7 linked regions of the Homo sapiens genome follow. The protein of the gene in region 5 purifies or fractionates together with the protein of the main gene of each other region. This does not show direct contact. Each region holds a gene or a part of one and is shown on either strand. Other genes may lie near its edges.

Evidence for each region.
Region 1: the proteins of TNFAIP8 (region 5) and IPO5 fractionate together in Homo sapiens (co-fractionation; one large-scale study listed by BioGRID). This does not show direct contact.
Region 2: the proteins of TNFAIP8 (region 5) and PPP1R2 fractionate together in Homo sapiens (co-fractionation; one large-scale study listed by BioGRID). This does not show direct contact.
Region 3: the proteins of TNFAIP8 (region 5) and ACOT7 fractionate together in Homo sapiens (co-fractionation; one large-scale study listed by BioGRID). This does not show direct contact.
Region 4: the proteins of TNFAIP8 (region 5) and DPP3 fractionate together in Homo sapiens (co-fractionation; one large-scale study listed by BioGRID). This does not show direct contact.
Region 6: the proteins of TNFAIP8 (region 5) and NHLRC2 fractionate together in Homo sapiens (co-fractionation; one large-scale study listed by BioGRID). This does not show direct contact.
Region 7: the proteins of TNFAIP8 (region 5) and PTP4A2 purify together in Homo sapiens (affinity purification with mass spectrometry; one large-scale study listed by BioGRID and IntAct). This does not show direct contact.

What each region holds. Positions count from the first base shown.
Region 1 is NC_000013.11:97,956,675-97,960,174, reverse strand, and holds part of IPO5 (importin-5), read right to left. Parts: intron 1-3,500. UniProt on the Homo sapiens protein: Functions in nuclear protein import as nuclear transport receptor. Serves as receptor for nuclear localization signals (NLS) in cargo substrates.
Region 2 is NC_000003.12:195,536,826-195,540,325, forward strand, and holds part of PPP1R2 (protein phosphatase inhibitor 2), read right to left. Parts: intron 1-3,500. UniProt on the Homo sapiens protein: Inhibitor of protein-phosphatase 1.
Region 3 is NC_000001.11:6,334,768-6,338,267, forward strand, and holds part of ACOT7 (cytosolic acyl coenzyme A thioester hydrolase), read right to left. Parts: intron 1-3,500. UniProt on the Homo sapiens protein: Catalyzes the hydrolysis of acyl-CoAs into free fatty acids and coenzyme A (CoASH), regulating their respective intracellular levels.
Region 4 is NC_000011.10:66,500,934-66,504,433, forward strand, and holds part of DPP3 (dipeptidyl peptidase 3), read left to right. Parts: intron 1-3,500. UniProt on the Homo sapiens protein: Cleaves and degrades bioactive peptides, including angiotensin, Leu-enkephalin and Met-enkephalin. Also cleaves Arg-Arg-beta-naphthylamide (in vitro).
Region 5 is NC_000005.10:119,397,104-119,400,188, reverse strand, and holds the end of TNFAIP8 (tumor necrosis factor alpha-induced protein 8), read right to left. Parts: 3' UTR 501-3,085; downstream 1-500. UniProt on the Homo sapiens protein: Acts as a negative mediator of apoptosis and may play a role in tumor progression.
Region 6 is NC_000010.11:113,875,161-113,878,660, forward strand, and holds part of NHLRC2 (NHL repeat-containing protein 2), read left to right. Parts: intron 1-1,360; coding exon 1,361-1,816; intron 1,817-3,500. UniProt on the Homo sapiens protein: Required for normal embryonic development.
Region 7 is NC_000001.11:31,931,869-31,935,368, forward strand, and holds part of PTP4A2 (protein tyrosine phosphatase type IVA 2), read right to left. Parts: intron 1-3,500.

The sequences.
Region 1 (3,500 bases), on a different chromosome or scaffold from region 5:
GACATCGATCTGCATCTCATAGTTGGAGCTATTGGCAGCATGGATTTTTAGTCATCCACAGTTAATGAGGAACAAATGAAAGGGACCTTATAATGGTTCATAGGCTTCAATTCCATGCATCCTATGTGTAGTACTGCTTGATGCCACATTTAACTGCAGTAGTATTTGTTTAATGAACATTTTCTTCATTCATTTGTTTAGAAAAATATTAGGCACCCCTCTGTGGGAGGTGCTGCTAGGCTGTGGGGATTCCACGGTGAGCATGCGGACAGGGTTCCCACCTTCAGGGAGCTTAGCTCTTTTGAAAGAATTCAGATAATAAACAAGTAAACTGATAAGATACTTGCATACAGTTATAGGTGAAAAAAGAAGATAATGGGATCACGAATGACTGGATTTGGAGTGGGGTCATACCCTAGGGACACAGTCTTTCTTTTCTTTGAGACAGAGTCCCAGTCCGTCACCCCGGCTGGAGTGCAGTGGCGCTATCTAGGCTCACTGCAACCTACGCCTCCCGGGTTCAAGCAATTCTCCTGGCTCAGCCTCCTAAGTAGCTGGGACTATAGGCGCCCGCCACCACACCCGGTTAATTTTTGTTTTTTGTATTTTAGTAGAGACGGGGTTTCACCATGTTGGCCAGGCTGGTCTTGAACTTCTGACTTTGTGACCCACCCGCCTCGGCCTCCCAAAGTGCTGGGATTATAGGCGTGAGCCACCGTGCCCTGCCGGGACAGTCTTTTGAGAGGAGGTGACAATGAAAGATGAGGCAAATAAAGAAATGGAGGAGGCTCTCTCAAGCAGAGGTGACAATACGAAGGACAGAGGCAAAAACAAGTTGGGGTATTCCAGAAAGGAAAGAAGGGGATAGCTAAAGCTGAGAGGGTTGAGAGGCCAGCAGAGGCCAGATCACCCAGGGCACCCTGATAGTTCAGCAGCATGTTCTGCTACTAGGGCATTGTGATGGTTCTGTAGTGTGACTTGTTCTCTCTCTTTTTTTTTTTTTGAGACACAGTCTTGCTGTGTCACCCAGGCTGGAGTGCAGTGGCGTGATCTTAGTTCACTTCAACCTCTGCCTCCTAGGTTCAAGCAATTCTCTTGCCTCAGCCTCCCGAGTAGCTGGGATTACAGGTGCCCGCCACCACGTCTGGCTAATTTTTGTATTTTTAGTAGAGACGAGGTTTCACCATGTTGGCCAGGCTGGTCTTGAACTCCTGACCTCAGGTGATCTACCTGCCTCAGCCTCCCAAAGTGCTGGGGTTACAGGTGTGAGCCACCGTGTCCTGCCTCTTGTAGTGTGACTTGTCCTAGGGGAAAGGGGAATCTAGTGGAGGGTTAAGAAAGAGATCTGACCTGAGAAGCTTTCAACTTTCAAAGATCATCTTGGCTGCAGTGTGGGGTGGGGTGGGATGGGGCTTGGACTGAGGTGGTAGCAATCAACAGTGTTCACTGTTGTGTGGTCGGTTTTAGATGGTTTTCTTTTCTCTTTCTTTCTTTTTTTTTTTTGAGATAGTTTTCTTTTGGAAATGAGCTGGACAGAGGGTGCAGAGGCCGATCCAAGGTTTGTGAGGCCTAAATCATACAGTTTGAGGGCCTTCCATAAGAAAAATAAAAACTAAACACAAAATGAGATAGAGGACCCTGCAATGGGGTAACACAAAATGAGATAGAGGGTCCTGAGCAAAGGAGAGTCCCTGACACTTAAGCTTCTGGAATTTCTTGATGAGTCCTCTCCCGATGGTGGGGGTGAGGTCGGGAGAGATCAAGAATGCCCAGGTTTTGTGACTGAGCAACTGATGATGCTATTAAGATGAGAAGGAGGTGTTTGGGGTAAGGTCTGGAGAGAAGAGCTGGGTTTCCTTCGTGGCACTTTTGTGGGACACAGGAAACAGCCACGTGGCTGAGGATAGAGGGACAATGGAGCCCAGGAAGAGGGCAGGGCTGGAAATGGCAAGCCATCACTTTCATGGCATTTAAAGTTGTGGAAGTGGATGACATCAGGTTGGGAAGAGAGAAGAGAGCCAAGCAATCAGCTGCAAGACAACTCCACCTGAGGCCAGGCCCTGGAGGTTTCTAGTTTATATATAGTCCAAATATAATAGTATATTTAACATTAGTCACTTTAAGTTGTAATTCTCTTTTTCTTTCTGATTGCAAGGGTTTCTTTCTTTACTTTTTTTTCTGAGACAGAGTCTCATTCTGTCTCACTCTGTCACCCAGGCTGGAGTGCAGTGGTGCGATCTCGGCTCACTGCAATCTCCACCTCATGGGTTCAAGCGATTCTGCTGTCTCGGCCTCTAGAGTAGCTGGGATTACAGAAGACAGGGTTTCTTTAACATTTAAGGAATCCACTGATCTACTTCTGAAATCTTCAGAGATAAAAAAGAGAAGGAATCCACTAATGCATGTAAGGATAGTGGGCTGAACAAGTAGGCCCTAATGATCAGAACAAGTCAATTAAAAAAATTATTTGATCAAAGAATTGTTTATTTTTATTGTTTTTATTTTTATTTTTTCTTATACTTCAGGAGTAGTAGGATTTACTTTGTGCCAAGGAAATAACTAGTTTTCTCTAAATTGTCTTCAAGCATTTAGGCCTCCTACCAACTAATATAATTCTCTACCTCTCACTTAGAAACATTGTTTAACAATATGGAATGATCATTTAAAGAACTTAGATCAGGCTGAGTGCGGTGGCTCATGCCTGTAATCCCAGGACTTTGGGAGGTAGGTGGATCACCTGAGGTCGGAGTTCGAGACCAGCCTGGCCAACATGGTGAAACCTTGTCTCTACAAAAAATACAAAAAAAAAATTAGCCAGGTATGGTGGCGCAGGCCTGTAGTCCCAGCTACTCAGGAGGCTGAGGTGGGAGAATCGCTTGAACCTGGGAGGTGGAGGCTGCAGTGAGCTGAGATCACGCCACTGCACTCCAGCCTGGGCAACAAAATGAGACTCAGTCTCAAAAAATAGAAAAAAAAAAAGATGTTAGATCAAACTAATATTAAGAGGTCAAAAGACCATCTTCCTCCCATCTTAATCTAAGGATTTTTCTAGTTTTGTTTATACACTTAAGTTTTCATTTGAGTATTCAGAGAGATAATAAACCCTACCCTTTTAAAGAATGTGGGAGGGAGTGGGAAAAGTAGGAATGCGTTTTAAGGTCTATCTGCCATGTAAAATCAGCGATATTGGACCCATGTGATAAGAATGCTTGTTTTACATGGCTTCAGCTATCCATAGACCAAGCATTTTCTCTTGAAACATAGCTACATTTAGAAAATCTTAATACAGCTTAAAATAGGAATTTTGGTATTTGGTCCCGGACACTACCACCAGAAAGGGATCCCATTATGTTATGATGCTATTATTCAAGCTGGTTGGACTCAGTTTGCAGAGACTCCTATTTTACAAATCACTTGGCTTGTGTGAATTGACTATTTAGTGGCTGTGAGATTGAGGATAAGGGCTAAATCTTTTCTAACAAGAGGACTATTTAAAAACC
Region 2 (3,500 bases), on a different chromosome or scaffold from region 5:
TGATCATCGTTGCTTAGGATAAAAAAAAGAATGAGGAAAGACCTCTGGAGTTTAAAAAGTATCTCTAATGGGAAAGAAAGAACGCCACATCCTGTAAATATTTTTTGCAAGATAAGGATTGAAGAAAAAGAACTACAGAACACAAGCAGAAATTAAGTTTTCTTGAAATTAAAAATAAAATTTAATAAACACAATCCCAGCACCCTAAGCCATTCATAATTTTGATTTCAGCATATTCTTCCCTTTGTATAATACATATAAATATGTATAAGCTATCAAAACATAAAAATATATATAACTATACATATAAAACAGTACATACAGTATATATACAATACATATGCTGATATATAAGTTTTAAGTATATGTAGTATAAGTTGCTTGTGTTTTTTTACCTTCTTAATGACTGTATAAGATTCATTTAGATTGATAACCTAAATAAGTTTTCCTATTTAAAATAAGGCAGACATGAACATATTTGTATATATGCTATTCAATGCTGTTTTAAAGAAAATTTGCTAGTGTAAGAGTCTGAATTAAAGTTTATTAAGAACTTTATAGTTCACTCCATGTTGCCATACAGATTTTTTTTTAAAAAAAGAGGACTGTTTGTAACGTCCCCAGTAAATTACCAAACCATTGCTAGGATTAGCTATTGTGTGTGTGTGTGTGTGTGTGTGTGTGTGTGTGTGTGTTTCCATTTCAGCAGGTATAAAACAGTATTTTAAAACTGTTGTTTCTTTGCCTAATTTCCTCATGTGAATTATGTTTACATCCTTTGCCTATCAGAAATCTTCCCATAAATTTGAGCTCTTTAGATTTATATAAACCACATTTTATATAACTTCAATTTTTCCCAGTTTGTTTGCCATTTAGTTTACTTTCTTCTGTAAATGAAATTTTAAGTTCTAAATATTCAAAGTCTCACTCAACTTGTTTTCTCAACAGAACACTAACAGAAAAAAAAATTAGTACAATTATTCAGATCCAAAAAAAGACAACAATAGCTTGCAAAAACAAGCATTTAAATAACGGTATTACAAAACAGACTCCAAAAATGCTAGGAAATCTTCGAAAGTTAGTGAAGTAGAAGAAACTGTCAGCAGGGGACACTGGATATGAAAGTCGGCATCTCTAAAGTGATGGCAGAATTAACATTAGTTGTGGAATAGCAAAACCCAAGGAGTGAGCCTGAGCTTAATCCCAGTACCATCATGAACTGTATGACCTCCTTTGAGGTCAGTATCCCTGCAGACAAAAATAGGGGCACCACCATTTACATGGCAGATCTGCCATGATGGTGAAAGCACCTGCTGGTTTCAGTTTTCCCCCACCCTCTTGGGTGACTGGTTTTCCTACAGCCTAAATCTGGTGCTGAAAACGTCACCGCTTCTCACTTTTACTTTGTTAGCTCATATGGTGCCACCTTAAGAAGACCTACTGGAACTTCTTGTTGCTTGTGACTTGCTCATTTGATAAGTTGTGACTGTGTCTGGAATGGGAAGCAAGATTTTGCTTCAAGGTGATTTAACTTTAATTGCACATTTCAAGAAATGGTTCTTTCTTTAAATGAAGATTCAACTTATATAGATTGACACAATATAAGACTTCGAAGCCTGATATCGTTACTGAACAATTAAAGTAAGACTTAACAATAAAAGCAATTACAAGTAAGCAAAAAGTAACTTTTAGAAAACAAATTTTTATTTTACTCAGTAAACCTCTGACTATAATATTCCACATCCCTTTATAGGCAGAAAAAGACAAAGTTGAAGCTTGTTTATATCTTAAATTACATCAAAGGAAATTAAGGCATAATTTTTTCAAGCAGAATTTGCCTGCATTATCTAAGACTACTATAGAATTTGAATTGAACAGAATAGTGAACTCCAAAGCAGACTGTGTAAAAACCCCGCTGAGATATGGAAAAAATGAATTTCTATATTTATTTCTATTACAATAAGACTAACATTTGAGGGTAAGGCACTGGGTTAAGCACTTTACATTTATTAATTCATTTAATATTTAAACTAAGGCACAGATATAATGAATAATTCACTGAAAATCACAACTAATAAAGTTTGCTAATAAGCAGCAGACAAGATTCAAACCCAGGCAATCTGGCACCAGATTAACCACTAAACTATAATCCTTCTCAAATGATAGGCTTTAGCAATATTTACTGTCATATTTTCAATAATTCCCAAAACACATTTTTTACATTTTCACATCTCTGAAAAAGAACATGTCTTAAAAGGATGGCATCTTATAATCATAGCTGGCAGTATTTTTTCTTCCTGGATAGTACATCTTAGAATCAACAGTGTCTTCTTTTCATTAAGATACACATATGTACTCACTAGGCCTGCTAAATTAGACCTTCATAAGTTGTGCCCTATATTCAAGGTATCCTGAAAGAATGGGAAGTCCACAATGATCGAAGATGACAGTGGTGTTTAAAACAGCTGAATGCTGTGGTGCAATGTACTGAGATTTATCTATACTTAGTTATGTGGATTTATGGATTCTATCCAGTTTTAATTTAACCCTCAAAAATTGGTATCTGACAAATGGTACCTGTAGAAACCACTCATTAAAGACATAAGTACTGGTGGGGCATGGTGGCTCTCACCTGTAATCCCAGCACTCTGGGAGGCAGGCAGATCACTTGAGCCCAGGAGTTTGAGACCAGCCTGAGCAATATACTAAAACCCCATCTCTACAAAAAATACAAAAATTAGCTGGGTGTGGTGGCCTGAGGTGGGACAATCATTTGAGAGCAGGAGATGGAGGCTGCAGTGCGCTGTGATCGTGCCACCGTACTCCAGCCCAGGTGGCAGAATGAGATCTTGTCTCAAAAATAAACAAAAAAAGACGTAAGCACTAATGCAAAGTATAAACAATAAGAAAATAACAGCACTGAGTCATCTAAAAAAATAAAACCCCCCTCAATGATGGTTTGATCGGTCCTGACAATTGGATAAAAAAATAGAAATGCTAGACTATCTGAATATGGCTTTATATAAACCTCACTTTAAGTGGACATTGAGTTTTGAGAATTATCTAATGATAGTAGTACATCCATATATGAATTACAGACATATATCTGAAGTATGTTTGAATTCTATTTTTAAAAATTCCTTGGTAATATTTACGTAAAATAACATCCTCTCACAACTGGGGGATGGGTAGGAGTCAAACTATCATCGCATTTTACACAACGAAGACACCTATAAAAGGTAGGGTTCATTCTCATTATTCTCTGATTCTTTCTTTGCAAGTTTACCTACTTGCTAAAATGTGTAATCCCAAAACTAGCATTTGAGGTCCGTTAGCAGTTGCTCACAGACAGCCACAGAGCAGGGCAGATTCTGAGTTGCCCAGTGCACCGTTCACAGCCGAGGTAGCATGTTCCCAGATGGGGTCAAACAAGGCGACGCTCTGCTTTCTTGTTTCAGCTCTTGTACTGTAAACAAGTGTCCTTTTCGTGGCCTATTTAG
Region 3 (3,500 bases), on a different chromosome or scaffold from region 5:
TCACTTGTACAGAAGGAGTCTGAGGCCCAGAGACGTCTAGGGGTTTACCCAGGGTCACACAGCAACTTGGTGCCATACTCCCATGTCCCAGTCATTTCAGAGAAGTATCTGCAAGGATGCCTTTAAAAAGTGGCTTTGTCAGGCACGGTGGCTCACACCTGTAATCCCAGCACTCTGGGAGGCTGAGGTGGGTGGATCACTTGAGCTCAGGAGTTCCAGACCAGCCTGGGTAACATGGCGAAACCCCGTCTCTACCAAAAATACAAAAAATTAGCTGGGTTGGCTGGGCACGGTGGCTCACACCTGTAATCCCAGCACTTTGGGAGGCCGAGGCAGGCGGATCACCTGAGGTCAGGAGTTTGAGGCCAGCCTGACCAACATGGAGAAACCCCGTCTCTACTAAAAATACAAAAATTAGCCGGGCGTGGTGGTGCCTGTAATCCCAGCTACTCGGGAGGCTGAGGCAGGAGAACAGCTTGAACCCAGGAGGCAGAGGTTGCGGTGAGCCGAGATGGCGCCATTGCACTCTAGGCTGGGCAACGAGAGCAAAACTCTGCCTCAAAAAAAAAAAAAAAAAAAAAAAAATTAGCTGGGCATGGCGGTGCACACATGTGGTCCCAAAGGCTGAGATAGGAGGATCGCTTGAGCCCGGAAGGCAGAGATTACAGTGAGCCTAGATTGCACCACTGCACTCCAGCCTGGGCGACAGAGCGAGGCCCTGTCTTAAAAAAATAAATAAAAGTGGCTTCTTCAATGTGGAAGATCCTCACTATAAAGCAGAAGAGCAAACTGCAGGAAGTAATGGAGGAAAGGGAGACAGGAGCAGCCCCAGGGCCCTGCCCAAAACCCCCAGAGGAGCTCACTTCCCACCAGTTACCTGAACCTGCCTCCCCAAGGCAAAGCGCTTTTCCTCCTCAATAAACACAGCCCCAGGCTCCAAATCAAGCCCCAGGGGGCCCATTAAGAAAAGGCCTGTGCCTGCCCCTCCTCCCCGCACAGAACACACCTTGGGAACGTGGGGCTCCCAGTGCTTGGGAACCACAGGCAAATAATATGGGAAAATATTTCCACCGCACTTTGACTGAGAGTGAATCTGACAACCTGCTTTTGGGAATAAAGATTTCCTGTTGGATTCAGCTAGAGCCAGCCTGACAAGCCGGTTTCCATGACAACTCGAGTGGCCCTCTGGACCTAAATGAACACCATGGAGCAAATGAGGCAAACATGCTAATTGTATTTTCTCCATCATTTAATGAAAGCATCAAAAGACAACGGCAGTATTAGAAAATTATCTCTCGGCCAGCTGCGGTGGCTTACGCCTGTAATCCCAGCACTCTGGCAGGCCGAGGCAGGCGGATCACGAGCTCAGAATCGAGACCATGCTGGCTAACAGGTCTCTACTAAAAATACAAAAAAATTAGCCAGGCATGGTGACACGTGCCTGTAATCCCAGCTACTCGGGAGGCTGAGGCAGGAGAATCACTTGAACCTGAGAGGCGGAGGTTGTAGTGAGCCGAGATTGCGCCACTGCACTCTAGCCTGCACGACAGAGCAAGACTCGGTCTCAAAAAAAAAAAAAAAAAAAAAAAAATCTCTTAAAATCTTAAGAGCTCCCAGCTATTTTTCTGGAGCAATTCACAGCAATCACATCCCAGTTAGCTTAATATTTTGACAGTTGCTGGAGATAAATGAGCTGCCTCAAAGGCAAGGTTTGCGGGTCGTCTGCCTGGGCCTGTGCTCGCTCAGCGGCCTCGTGACAGGCAGCACAGCCCAGGTAAAGGGGACACACAGAACAGGGGACCCCTGTCTCCTGGGGTGGAGACAGCACACAGATGTCACGCACACAGCTTATGACTCAGCCTGCTCCGGGCCAGGGTCCCCGCGCGCATCCTCTGCCCCCACCTGCAATACCCCTATCTTTCAGAGGTCACCACCCATTCAGCCAGTGCTCCCCGTGTGCCCACAGTGTGCCAGGCACTGTTCTTGCTGTTGGGGCCTTCGAGTTCAATTTCCAGGGGACACATGGGCAGAGACAGAGAAGGGCCTCAAGAGAACAATAGAGACTGCAGAGAGAGATGGCAGAGAAGCAGAAGCACAGACGAGGAGATGAGCGAGACAGAGGGGGAGATGAGACTCGCAGTCACAGAGTGAGACAACAGCGGGCTCCGGGGCCTGACCAAGATATGGAGAAAAGCTACAGCCTTGGGGCTCCAAGGCCTCCCTGCCCAGCCCCTGCTACAGGGAAAAGGCTGAAGCTGGGAAGAAGAACCTGGGGCACCGCCCAGCCCCACTGGGAAAAGCCTTCATGTGCTGGCAAGCGTATCCTGCCTTCTCCAAGCCTCACGCGCACGACAGCGCAATGCCAGCCCTGATGTCCCCAGGGAGGAGGGGTGGGCATCTCTGTCCCTCTCTGAGCCCATCCTTCGGAGGAGGAGGAGAAGGCCGAGGGCTGTGGTGGCCAGGACACAGCTGGGAGGCCGAGAAGCTCCCAGCACCTTCTGGGTGAGCTGGTGGGGGCTGCTCTCTCATGCTCACGCCTGCCTTGGCTCTGCACAGGAGCCTCTCCCCCTCTCAGCCCCTAAAGAGCGAGGGATCCTCACGAATATGTCAGATTGTGTCGTCCTCATCAAAACCCCATCAGCCAGCATGTCTCAGCACTGATGCCCAGTTCTTCCTGGTCGCCTCTGCTCATTCACTTATTCATTCATTCATTTGCTCATCCACTATCGGTTCCATATCTATTATGGGCCAGCAGAAGCGGCCAGGAAAGGGAAGTTCAGGATCTAGGGAGTTCCTCAAGCTCAGTACCCCTGACCTTTGGCCTGCATCACTCTCTGCTGTGGGGACAGCGGGTCCCAGCCATGCTGAAAGCCTGAGAACGCCTTTCTGTCTCCCTGCCTCTCTCCCCATCATCCCAAACTGCTCGGCTGGGCTCGGTGGCTCATGCCTGTAATCCCAGCACTTTGGGAGGCCGAGGCAGCTGGATCACCTGAGGTCAGGAGTTTCAGACCACCCTGGCCATCATGGCGAAACCCTGTCTTTACTAAAAATACAAAAATTAGCCAGGTATGGTGGCTCATGCCTGTAATCCCAGCTACTCAGGAGGCTGAAGCAGGAGAATAGCTTGAACCTGGGAGGCAGGAGAATAGCTCGAACCTGGGAGGCAGAGGTTGCGATGAGCCAAGATCACACCACTGCACTCCAGACTGGGCAACAGAGTGAGACACCATCTCAAAAAAAAAAAAAAAAAAAAAAAGAAACCTGCTCTTCAGGGCTTCCTCTGAGGCTATGGCCTCTGATGGACCACAAAGGGGGCTTTCATGGCAGAAAATCTGCAAAGCAGATCCCTTCCTGGCATTTTTGAAGCCACCAACTCCTGCAATGACAAAGGGCACTGCTGACTGGGCCCTCACAAGCAGGAAGGTCCTAGGAAGCAGGAGAGCGCGGCAGGCCATCCCTCCTCTCCAGGAAGGGGCCAAGGCTCCACCCCCAGCACAGTC
Region 4 (3,500 bases), on a different chromosome or scaffold from region 5:
ATCCCAGCACTTTGGGAGGCCGAGGCAGGCAGATCACCTGAGGTTAGGAGTTCAAGACCAGCCTGGCCAACATGGTGAAACCCCTTTTCTACTAAAAATAAAAAATTAGCCGGGTATGGTGGCATTTGCCTGTAGTCCCAGCTACTCAGGAGGCTGAGGCAGGAGAATCGCTTGAACCAGGAGGTGGAGGTTGCAGTGAGCCAAGATCGTGCCACTGAACTCCGGCCCAAGCGACAGAGTGAGACTCTGTCTCAAAAAAAAAAAAAAGTGCAAAAAAGTTAGCCAGGCATGGTGGCGCATCCTGTACTCCAAGCTACTCGGGAAGCTGAGACAAGAGAATCACTTGAACCCGGGAGGTGGGGATTGCAGTGAGCCATGATCGTGCTGCTGCACTCCAGCCTGGGCAACAAGAGTGAAAATTACGTCTCAAAAAAAAAAAGCACCAAATTACACATGAACAGTAGAGGAGATGAAGTTGTGTGTTTATAAGTAAAAGACTACATACACAGCAGTGAGAAGGGGAACTATAGCTGAATGTTTTGGCACAAATGAATCTCAAACATAATCCAAGCAGAAAAAGAAAATCACAATATATACAGTTCAAAAACCGGCCGGGCACAGTGGCTCACCACTGTAATCCCAGCACTTTGGGAGGCTGAGGCGGGAGGATCACCTGAGGTCAGGAGTTCGAGACCAGCCTGTCCAACATGGTGAAACCCCACATCTACTAAAAATACAAAAATTAGGTGGGCATGGTGGCAGGTGCCTGTAGTCCCAGCTACAGAGGAGGCTGAGGCAGGAGGATCACTTGAACCTGGGAGGTGGAGGTTTCAGTGAGCTGATAATCTGCCACTGCACACCAGCCTGGGTAATAGACTGAGACTTTGTCTCCAAAAAAAAAAAAAAAGCAGGCAAGAACTTAATATATGATTGAGAGTAAAACTCAGGGAAAGCAAGAGAGTTTTTTAAAAACTACAATATCGGCTGGGCACGGTGGCTCACGCCTGTAATCCCAGCACTTTGGGAGGCCAAGATGGGCAGATCATGAGGTCAAACGATTGAGACCATCCTGGCCAACATGGCGGCCCGTCTCTACTAAAAATACAAAAATTAGCTGGGCGTGGTGGTGCACACCTGTAGTCCCAGCTACTCAGGAGGCTGAGGCAGAAGAATTGCTTGAACCTGGGAGGTGGAGGTTGCGTGAGCCAAGATCACGCCACTGCGCTCCAGCCTGGCAACAGCGAGACTCCATCTCAAAAAAAAGAAAGTACAATATCAAGGATAGTGGTTTCCTTAGATGGGGACAGCCACAGAGTGCAGTCAAGCAGAAGCAGCTGAACTAACTCTGAGGTGAGGTGGGGGTTGTATGAGTGTCCGTCTTTTTTTTTTTTTTGATGGGAGTCTCGCTCTGTCCCCCAGGCTGGAATGCAGTGGCAAGTTCTTGGCTTATTGCAGCCTCTGCCTCCCGAGTTCAAGAGATTCTCCTGCCTCAGCCTCCCGAGTAGCTGGGATTATAGGCGTGTGCCACCATGCCCAGCTAATTTTTTTTTTTTCGAAACCAAGTCTCACTCTGTCGCCCAGGCTGGAGTGCAGTGGCGTGATCTCAGCTCACTGCAAGCTCCGCCTCCCAGGTTCATGCCATTCTCGTGCCTCAGCCTCCCGAGTAGCTGGGACTACAGGCACCCGCCTGGCTAATTTTTTGTATTTTTTAGTAGAGATGGGGTTTCACCCCATGTTAGCCAGGATGGTCTCGATCTCCTGACCTCGTGATCCACCCGCCTCGGCCTCCCAAAGTGCTGGGATTACAGGCGTGAGACACCACGCCCAACCAAATTTTTTGTATTTTTAGTAGAAACGGGGTTTCACAGTGCTAGCCAGGATGGTCTTGATCTACTGACCTCATGATCCGCCCACCTCGTCCTCCCAAAGTGCTGGGATTACAGGCATGAGCCACCCGCCCGGCCCGAGTGTTTGTTTTAATATTCTTTACGGTATACATACTGTATCTTGTATGTGTAAGAAATGTTTTATTTTATTTATTTATTATTTTTTTGAGATGGAGTCTCACTTTGTCACCCACGCTGGAGTGCAATGGTGCAATCTTGGCTCACTGCATCCATCACCTCCTGGGTTCAAGCGATTCTCCCACCTCAGCTTCCTGAATAGCTGGGACTACAGGCACCACCATCAAACCTGGCTAGTTTTTATATTTTTGTAGAGACAGGGTTTCACCATGTTGGCCAAGCTGGTCTTGAACTCCTGACCTCAGGTGATCCGCCTGCCTCGGCCTCCCAAAGTGCTGGGATTACAGGTATGAGCCACCGTGCCCAGCCAGAAATGTTTTATTTTATAAAGGGTAATGGTCATACCTGCCTTGTCTACATGTCAAATGAGATAATCAAACGAGAAACATTAGCTTTAATTTTGTGGGCATTTACTCTATGCTAATCACTGATCTGTGTTTCTCACTCATTCAGCACAGTAACACTATGAGAGAGTAGAACTATTCTTGTTTAGAGATAACAGGTCAGAGTGGTTTAGTAACTTGTCCAAGGTTACACTGCCTGTAAGTGACAGGGCCCAGCATTTTGCAGAGTGTCTTAGTCTGTCTTGTGCTGTTGTAACACACCAAAAATACCAGAGGCTGGGTGATTTATAAAGAACAGAAATTGGCCAGGCATGGTGGCTCACGCCTGTAATCCCAGCACTTTGGGAGGCCGGGGCGGGGCAGATCTCGAGATCAGGAGATGGAGACCATCTTGGCTAACATGGTGAAATCCCATCTCTACTAAAAATACAAAAATTTAGCCGGGCGTGGTGGCACGCACCTGTAGTCCCAGCTACTCAGGAGGCTGAGGTAGGAGAATCACTTGAACCCGGGAGGCAGAGGTTGCAGTGAGCCAAGATTGTGCCATTGCACTCCAGGCTGGGTGACAGCAAGACTCTGTCTCAAAAAAAAAAAAGATCACAAATTTATTTCTGGCAGTTCTGGAGGTGGGGGAGTCCAAGATCAAGGTACCAGCTGGTTCATTTTCTGGTGAAGGCTGCTCTTCTCTTCCATCCAAGATGATACCTTGTTGAAGATACCTTATTTGTAGGAGAGGAATGGGAGGAATGCTGTGGCCTCACATGGTGGAAAGCAAAATGGCAACAGGGCCAAACAGGCATGAAGCCTGTTTTCCTTTTTCTTTCTTTCTTTTCCTTTTTTTTAGAGACGAGACGGGGTCTCACTATGTTAACCAGGCTGGTCTCAAACTCAAGCAATCCTCTCACCTCGGACTCCCCAAGTGCCCAGGATTGCACGCATGAGCCACCATGGCTGGCCTTTTTTTTTCCATAGAGATATGGTCTTGCCATATTGTCCAGGCTGGTCTCAAACTCCTGGGCTCAAGTGATCCCCTGCCTCCTCCTCCCAAGGTACTAAGATTACAGGTGTGAGCCACCACACCCAGCCTGAAGCCTCTTTTATAAGGGCCTTAATCCCATTCAAGAGGAAGGAG
Region 5 (3,085 bases):
TGCTGATTTTCATCTGTATCCTTTTGCTATAATAAACCATAACTATGAGTACAATAGCTTTTCTGAGATTTCTGAGTCCTTCTAGAGAATCATCAAACCTGAGGGTGTCTTGGTGACCCCAATACAGCCTGTGATTTGATTTGACCAGTAGAATGAGGCAGAAATGATATTGTGCCTGTTCTGGGCATCAGCCTTAAGAATGCCTGGAAACTTCTGCTCTTGCAATTTGGGGTGCTCTTAGTAAGTAGTAAGTAGAGACCATGGGGAGAGGAGAGGCCCAGTCATCCAGGTGTCCCAGCCAAATCTTTGTAAGACTCCAGTCCCAGCCATGATCTGACCACAACCACATGATAGACCCCAAATCAGAGAACTGCCCAGGTGAGCACATTCAACGCACAGAATTGTGAGCGGGAACAAAATGGTTGTTGTTTTAAACCACTAAATTTTGGGGTGGCTTATAATACAGCAGTGGATAACTAAAACCAGCATGAATAATCAAGTGATTTAAGAGATTCAGAATTTAATTGGTTAAGAGATTATACATAAGTAGCTGCTAGAAATCATTACTTTCAACAATGCAACCCAAAACAATTTTCCTAAATTGAAAGCAAAAACCGATTTTTTTTTAAGGAGACTGGAATTGAACAAAATTCTCTCAGGCTGCTGAAGTCTGTTGCTTCATTTATTTTAGACTCAGTCTTCTTTTCATCGCTGATTTGGAAATAGTGAAAGGCCACCCGTAAACAATACCTCACATAGGAATAGCCTTCAGGAGGTCTCAGAGCCTTCCATGTCTTTAAAAATTGTATCTTTAAAATTAGAATATGAGGTAATTGCTCTTATGCAAATTTCAGAGACAACATGAGCGAGCTCCCTGGCAGGCAGAAGCTGGACGTCCTGGTTTCCTAACTGCTCCCACAAATGCCCTCTGTACCCTGCTGGGTTCCATCTGGCCACACTCCAGTGCCTCTCCCAGAGGAAGGCATGCCAAATTCCTGACACGTGGCGTTTGAAAATACCATGGAACGTTTCCACTCGTGGATTTCACCATGTTCTCCAGTGAATATTTTAGCAAGCTAAAAATGTGACTCCTCGGTCATGAGAACACTAAGTCCATATGATTCGAAAAGAGCAATAATGCTGGAACTTTGATCCAATTATCAGCAAGTCCTCTTCCAGGAGATTAAATGTCTTATAGTATTTTATAATTTGCTTAGCAGGTATTTATCCTTTAGTGAAAACCAATGGTCTTAGAAGAGAGCAGCAAAAGATGCTGACAAATCATTTAAATGGCTAAGTGGTCATTCTTGCTGGCCTAATAAAAGTCCATTTCTAGGAAGACGAAACCTCAGCTTCTTATAAATCATCAATTATCCCAGATAATGGTAACAATATAGATATTTATACTCTGAGTTTTTATTTCCGCGTCTTGTGTTTCAACTTCACATCAGGTTGGTTTTTAAAAATTTATTTATTTACTTCGAGACAGAGTTTCTTTTTTTTTTTTTGAGACAAAGTCTCACTCTTGTTGCCCAGGCTGGAGTGCAGTGGTGTAATCTTGGCTCACTGCAACCTCTGCCTCCTGGGTTCAAGTGGTTCTCCTGCCTCAGCCTCCCAAGTAGCTGGGATTACAGGCATGTGGCACTGCACCCGGCTAATTTTGTATTTTTAGTAGAGATGGGGTTTCACCATGTTGGTCAGGCTGGTCTTGAACTCTGGACCTCAGGTGATCCGCCCACCTCAGTCTCCCGAAGTGTTGGGATTACAGGCATGAGCCACCGCACTCAGCCTGGCAGTTTTAAACGAATGAATTCATCTGTAAGCTTTTGAATGGAAAAACCAAAGTAGAAAGAAACATATTGTCTTACATTATTCTACAAATCAAAACTTTTAAAAATCAAATTGTCTTTCTTGTATTAAGAACAAACCGCAAGTGCCTGATCATCTACTTTATTTCCACGAGGCAGAAATACAGTTATGCAGCTGATGTCAGGGAAGGCGGAGAATTTCCTCAGCCATCCATGAAGAAAGATAAGGGGCCTTATCCACTGGCTGTCTAATCTTATAAAGATCTCATGCAAATTTGGTGGACATAGGGCACAATTCTCTATCCTTGAAGAACATTTTCCAAAGCACAGATGTTTTTCTCTTAATTGTGAATGCTGACTGACTTGTCCATATCCTTTCTCAGTGCTCAGCAGATGGTACGATTTGGGACTCGCTTGTTCCCTATAACGTGGGGCTGATGTTCTTTGCTACGTGGAAAACACATCTTTGGTGAGACAGAAATGAATCAATATTACACAAAAATGTTTCCATTTCTGGAATTTCCCTGAGATAAAAATATCTTTCTGGCTTTGGGTATACATAAGTGACCGTGCAGACACTTAGTAAAAGAGAAAACAGATTTTCAATACTTCGTGGTGATGGTGACTATACGGGATTATAAGTAGTTAAAGGTTTTCCTGTTGCATCATTTTGGAAACAAAAAGCTGACTCATTTTCTGGTTAATGCTTCAATATTTTCATTAGGGAGTTTCTATAAAGTTTTTATCTGAATCACAGAAAGTACAATTATTTCAGAGGTAGGATAAAATTTTTTCTGTCATAAACAGCACTGTGTACTAAAACCTGCTATGAGTTTAACAAATCACCTAGAAGCCTAATGCTCAAGAATGCAATATATCAAGTAAAACACTGAAAAGTTCAACTAGTTTAGATAATGCAAGTATGGAAATGCAAGATTGACTAAAACTTTTAAATATTATCACTCTTATTAACATGCTAATTTAATTCATTTTACTGGAGTATTTTAATTTCCTGGCAATTGAATAGCACTTTTTACTACAAATATTTCATCATTTGGATAAACATATTCTTTTATTTACCATTTGTCAGGTTTTGTATGCTAAATTGCAACTGCTTATATACACTCATCAAGTATCTCAAGGATAAATTAAAATTCTTAGTAAAAATCCAACTGACCGGTACAGACCACAAAAAGTACTATTTTAAGCCTTTGGGGGCTTAAAAATTGTGTGTGTGTGTGTGTGTGTGTGTGTATTCACATGGTGGGAGAAAAAGA
Region 6 (3,500 bases), on a different chromosome or scaffold from region 5:
GGTTCTGTTATAGTCCTGTAGGGAACATTGGTAGCCTTATTTTAGTAGGCATCAACCCTCTTAATTCAAATTATAACTTCTGTCTCATCTTCCATCAGCTCTCGCTCCTTCTGTAAACCCAGTTATTCAGTTATCAGCTCCCCAAGCATTTGCTACACTTTTTAAAATCTGTTCCCTGTACTGTAGTTTAGGGGTTAAACAAAGACTTCTGAGTGTTCATACTCAGAAATAAGGAGCCACCTTCCCCAGCTGTTCTCCTCAGGGTTTCTCCCACACTGTCCAGGTTATGTGGTTTCTTGGGCTAGAGTTGCAGTGGGATTTCTGTTGGAGTTTTGGCTCTCCATACAGCTCCAAAACTGGAACCCACTCTCAGGACAAAGCTAGGAAAAGGATTGGAAAAGAAAATAAAATTGGCAGCTCACTCTTCTGTCATTTGATCTTCTGTCATTTGCTTTTCTGAGTTTTGGCCCTGCTGTACAATCTATCTGGTCGGGTTTACTTTTCTCCATCTTCAAGCAGGGTGTGTCTTCAAGCATGCATGTCTGTGTTTTGATTCGGAATTGATAGTTATAATAGAAGCATGAGCTGCTGGGAAATTATACCTCCTGATTTGTGTGGTTTTATTTGTTCATCTTGCAGGTTTGAGTAGTTTTTGGTGGATGTGTTGGGAGATTTGAATGTTACTTAGCTGTTATTATCTCTACTACTTTGGTAGTCAATATTGAATTTTTTCACTGAATCCAGCCAAACACTTTTTTTTTTTTTTTGGTACTAATTTCTTGAAATAATGTATTGATTAGATAAGAGAAGTATGTTTTCAGCAGTTCTGTCTACAGAAAGGCTTGTTCTAAGAACCATACAATAGGAATTTTAAATAAATCAAAAGCCTTATATTATGGAAACATCTTGCTTATATTTATTCTGTTAATCTGTAATGTAAAGTTAGATTAAAAAAAAAAAGACAGTGATACAACAATAAATACCTCCCAAAAGCAGGCATAGTCAACTCTGAATTTCAAAGGGGCTTATTATAGGTGGAAAAAATTTCAACATTTATTAAAAAAATAAAGATAATTTTTATAGCATTATCTAAATAAAAGAAAAAAAGTTTTAATCCTGCAATAGCCATATGAATTTGATCATGTGTGTTTTTATGTAGTAATCAAGATTGTTATGAGATTTAAATTTGTTAGTTTTTTATGTGTGTTAAAATGCAGTTGAAGATCCCAGCGTAGTTCTACTTTTCGTTTTTTTTTAATCTATGGACTTTTAATATTTGTGATCCAAAACCTAATGTGTAGATGATGATATTCAAACTTAAATATTTAATAATGTTTAACATATAATTTTTTCCTTTCAGATGGTCTTCTTATTATTGGTGTTCACTCGGCTAAGTTTCCAAATGAAAAAGTCCTGGATAACATTAAGAGTGCTGTTCTTCGATACAACATCACCCACCCTATGGTTAATGATGCAGATGCCAGCCTTTGGCAAGAACTAGAAGTTTCCTGCTGGCCAACTCTAGTCATACTTGGACCTCGTGGAAACATGTTGTTTTCTTTGATTGGAGAGGGACACAAAGATAAATTATTTTTATATACTTCAATTGCTTTAAAGTATTACAAAGACAGGGGGCAGATCAGAGATAATAAAATTGGAATAAAACTCTATAAAGATTCTTTGCCACCTTCACCATTGCTATTTCCTGGCAAAGTAACAGTAGACCAAGTTACTGATAGATTGGTAATAGCAGACACTGGACATCATAGAATTTTGGTCGTTTGGAAGAATGGACAAATTCAATATAGCATTGGAGGTAAAACTTGCTTCTGATTACGATAGATAACGTGTTTTACAGTAAAAAAATAGTTCAAGGTAAATATAAAAGTTGAAATGTCTAAATGAAAACTAATTATAGAAAAGTGATATACATTGACTTAATTTCCTAATAAAAATTTTTTGTTAATTAATATGATGTCTGAATTAACCTCTTCTCACTCCCTCATAAAACAAACAAAAACACTGAAAAAGCTCCAGGTCAAAAAGAGGAAATAGTTCAGCTTTTAGGTATATTTGTATATTCTATCTTTTTTTTTTTTTTTAAACTGCTGTACTTACTGTTTCTTATGAAAACATACGTTTTGGATTTCAGATGTTTTAAGTAGAAGTATTATGTTTCACTTTCCAACAAAATATAGCCGTATCTTTTTAAAGATCATGTCAGTGCCCCATGAACTTGAGATGTAGTTTATAAAATAAATAAGCTAGAATTTGTGCATAGTTTTACTTTTCTCTCCTTTCTTCCATAAGAACTTGAACATGTTTCTGGATCTATTTCCAGAATAGAAATAGGTGTAGCAGAGTATGAGTATCATGCAAGCGTAGATCATTTTGTTCTATATCTCCCTGGTCTTAGATCTAAAACTACCTCTTGGTTACATCTACATAATTAATAAACTCTACTGAGTACATTCTTATTAATCTTTCTTATCTAAACTGAGCTGACATTTGACAGCATGTTAGTCAAAGACAAAAGTAATTCATTTCTTTGCAATCCTGCTTTAGTAATATATGCAGCATTAGTACATAAAGTAGAAATGTCTGTGTTCCTAATATAAAAAAGCTAGTTGTGGTCCTATGCCCTGATGTTATTCTTAATATACCAAGATACAGTATGTGTTGTGTTTTGTGGTGTTTGTTTTGTTTTGGCTACTTGGTATTTTGATTTATGACAGGCAGTTACGAGAATTGAATTGTTACTCAAAAAGTGTCTTTTGTAGCAGTTTGAATTTAAGTGGTTTTAAAAGTTAATAGATTCTGTGATTTTCAAAATAGTGTAGGTGAATATTCTTTGTTAAAAGAGAAACCAGCAGCAAGCTACACTACCCAAACATAGTTCTAGAAATACTGTTATCTTTTGATACAGTTATTCTTTAATTTTTAAAAAAGAATTCTTTGGTCAGATACACTCAGGAAACACTTTTAATGTTATCAGATTTTTATTGGTGATGGTATCATAATATTTCCCAAATTTTTTACTCTCCTAATTTTCCTTATGGGGGGGTATAGTACACAATATTTTCCAATCTCATGTAACCACAGAACTCTCCCTTTTTTTTCAGGGAACTCTTATCAATATCAACACAATAATAGTATTATTAACAATTGTAGGTACAGTAGACACTATATGTCTGGCATTATTCAAAACATTTTACTTGTATGAACTCATTTTTGCCTGCACAATGCTATGAGTTAGGTAATTAGTTCCATTTTACAGAAGTAAAACTGAGACACAAAGAACTTTCCCAAATCACCAGCTAGAAAGAGACAGACTTGGGATTTAGACAAGGTCTATTGGGCTCTTGAGTTGGTTTTCTTTTTTTTAAAGATGGAGTCTCACTCTGTTGCCCAGGCTGGAGTGCAGTGGCATGATCTCAGCTCACTGCAGCCTCCACCTCCTGGGTTCAAGCAATTCTCCTGCCTCAGCCTTCCAAGTAGCT
Region 7 (3,500 bases), on a different chromosome or scaffold from region 5:
ACTCCATCCCCTAATGAAAGGCTTTTCACCAATAATGGAAAATACAATACACAACAATTTGTTCTGCTACTAAAAACAACAAATATCAACATTTGTATATAAATCCAATTTACAAATACTGTGGTGATACAACCTAGTGAATGTTTCCTGTAAAACGGTGGGGAAAATAAAAAGTTGGTCAAATTTAAACAAAAACTAAAGGACAACTGGAAGAAAACAGACCTGATTGTGAATTTGAATTCCTGTCAAACAATACATTAGTTAACAGCCAACATATCTGGCCACTGCAGAAATAAAAATATAAAGTAATTTATCTGATCTGCTAAAACAAATATATCATGTGTACATTTTATGCCAAAAGAATTAATGTCTTGAGAAGACTAAAAGTTCAAATAAAAAATACTATGAGAGGAATTAAATGCACCACTTCTCTAAAGGTAAAGACTGTTCTAAATGTTCAAAATATTTTTTCAAACCAGGCTCAACTAGCAAAGAAAGGGTCACAAAAAAGCCTAATCTTAAAATTCTCAAGAATTTAAAAAGCCAACATTGTGTAAGGTAAATTTATATTCAAATGATGAAATTTAGTTTAGGCCACTTAAAATGAAGTGGATGCTGTGTTAACATAACCTGTGGGCAAGAAAATCAGTATAGGCAAACAAAAACCGTCTACATTCAAGTCACATAAAAAATATCTGTATAATCTGTCAACTCCTCACAGTCATTTTTCTGGGAAAGATTTCTGTGTCCTGTAAATCTACACTGACTGAACAAACAGTGCAGGAAACGAGTCATTCTCTCACCTAAGTCCTGGTAACTCCACAATGGGGAACTGTGGAAAGCAGACAGCTAGTATTGCTGTGCAGCTTCTTTCATGGAGGTGCTAGGGTAGTGACAGTTTCTGGTTGAGCCTAGACCTCTACCACTCCAAAGAGCAAAAAGATTTTCACACAATATGCACTTCAGCTCTACACTAAGCAACCTAAAAGGCTTCAAGTGCCAAGACAGTGGCCAGGGAGTCAAGGGAGCCCATAGAATGAGGTTCAGCCAATAAAACAAAGGATAATGAGAGAAAGCTAACTGACACCTCTATACGTAGTTAATAGTTCAAAAGATGAAAATGGTGAAAAGATTTTTTCTTTTTTTTTTTTGAGACAGGGTCTCCCTCTGTCTCCCAGGCTAGACTGCAGTGGCATAGTCTCGGCTCACTTCAGCCTTGACCTCCCAGGCTCCAGTGATCCTTCCACTTCAGCCTCCTGAGTAGCTGGAACTACAGGTTCATACCACTATGCCTGGCTAGTTTTTGTATTTTTTGTAGAGATGTTGTCTCTATGTTGCCCAGGCTGGTCTCGAACTCCTGGCCTCAAGTGATCCTCCCGTGTCTGCCTCCCAGAATGAGCCACTGTGCCTAGCCAAGACTTTTCTAATATTTCACAGATTAAGAGACTCAAATCACCATCTCCCAAAGTAATTATAACTGGTGGTATCCACTGTTCAACAGAGATTTAAGTACTTTAAGCCCCTAAAAGGAAAAAAAAAATTATTCACTGCTATCTATTTATTGATAATCTTTAACTTAGATTCTAAAACCTGGGATTTAATAATCAAATCCCAGTACTTTGGGAGGCTGAGGCCAGCAACTCAACGCCTGAGCTCAGGGGTTCGGGACCAGCCTGGGCAACATAGCGAAACCCTGTCTCTACTAAAAATACAAAAATTAGCTGGGCGTGGTGGCGCACGCCTATAATACCAGCTGAGGCAGGACAATCGCTTAAACCTAGGAGGTGGAGGCTGCAGTGAGCTGAGGTTGCACCACTGCACTCCAGCCTGGGCAACAGAGTAAGACTCTGTCTGGAAGAAAACAAAATAAAACAAAACCCAACAACAATCAATCTATAAATAAATTTCCTTATCTGTAAAGCTAAAAGAATACTACTTACAGGATTATTGAGTTTCAAATGAGACAATACATGATTTGGCGTAAGAAAGGAATGTGGAAACCTAAACCCTGAAAGGGTAATATTGAACTTTACCAGTACCCCAAGATCTCTACCATCACCCTATTCGATAAACATAACTAAGTCCACCATGTTAAAACTATGGATCCTGGGCCGCGCGGTGGCTCATGCCTGTAATCCCTGCACTTTGGGAGGCCGAGGCAGGTAGATCACCTGAAGTCAGGAGTTCAAGACCAGCCTGGCCAACATTATGAAACCTCATCTCCACTAAAAACACAAAAAATTAGCTGGGCGTGGTGGCGTGTGCCGGTAATCCAGCTACTCAGGAGGCTGAGGCAGGAGAATCGCTTGAACCCAGGAGGCGCAGGCTGCAGTGAGCCAAGATTGCACCACTGCACTCCAGCCTGGGCAACAAGGGCAAAACTCCGTCTTAAAAAAAACCAAAACAAACAAAAAAGACTATGGATCCTGATTCTTAAGCAAAATTTTAAAGATCCCATCTTCTATTCAACAAATATAGTTGATGGAATAGCACCCAAATAAATCAACCAAACTTAGTTTCACAAAAACTTAAGCTTCATTCTTCCAAGACCAAGAGCAACAGCTAAAAATGTATGCACCTGCTCCTCTCCATCTTATTTGTAAATACATTCGTTTTCTAGGCTTCAGTGGTTACCAACCCCCACATTACAACAAAAAGGAAAAAGTATAGTCAAATCCTGTAAAATAAATCCCTACTAAATTTCAACTTTGTGTCTGAAAATTGTAAAGTGTTCCTTAATTACTGCATAAGGAAATACTACCTTTATAGGACAAAATGAATAAAAAGTTAATTCTAAAGAAAAATAAATCCAATTTACCTTGTTTGAAACTTTTTTCAAGTCAACTATATATGGGGCTCTCATACTGTTTTTTAAAGCTATACACAAAAGTATTCAAACATTTACTCTTCCTAGTGCTACAAAGTTCAATGATGTTGTAAATGGTTTCTGCCTATAAATTTGGTTCGTTCAAATTAAATTTTACTTGACTGACTCACAGAGGGAGTGGCCTGACTTTTGCTGTTCTGAGTCAGAAAATACCCCGTTCAGCAGTTCAAAACTATTTTTCATCTATAAAGGTGTTCTAAAATGCCAGCCTTTTCCAGCTACAAAATCTGTTGCCTTAGTAGAAAGATCTTAGTGGTAATAATACTTTGAATCTGTAGTTCAATTTATAATTAACAAAGTGCTTTCACGTGTATTTTCTCACTTCTTCTGATTTAAGTGTCCCACACAGCTCAACAGAGAAACTTTGATACAGTGGTAAGTTCTAGTTCACTCTTGGCCCCAATAAATATACTCTCCTCTTTTTCCAAAAAATAAAAAACATAAGACGCTGCTGCATTTCTTTAATCAGACTTCCCTCACGCAGACATATCCCAGGTGCCTCATAAAAACTGTCTCAAAGCACACACCCCGGGGCCCCAAGAGAGTTTCAAGGCATAATCTCCTCCCACATAAAAGCCTAGCTTAGGCCCCAAAGAGCCTCCAGTCAGCATCT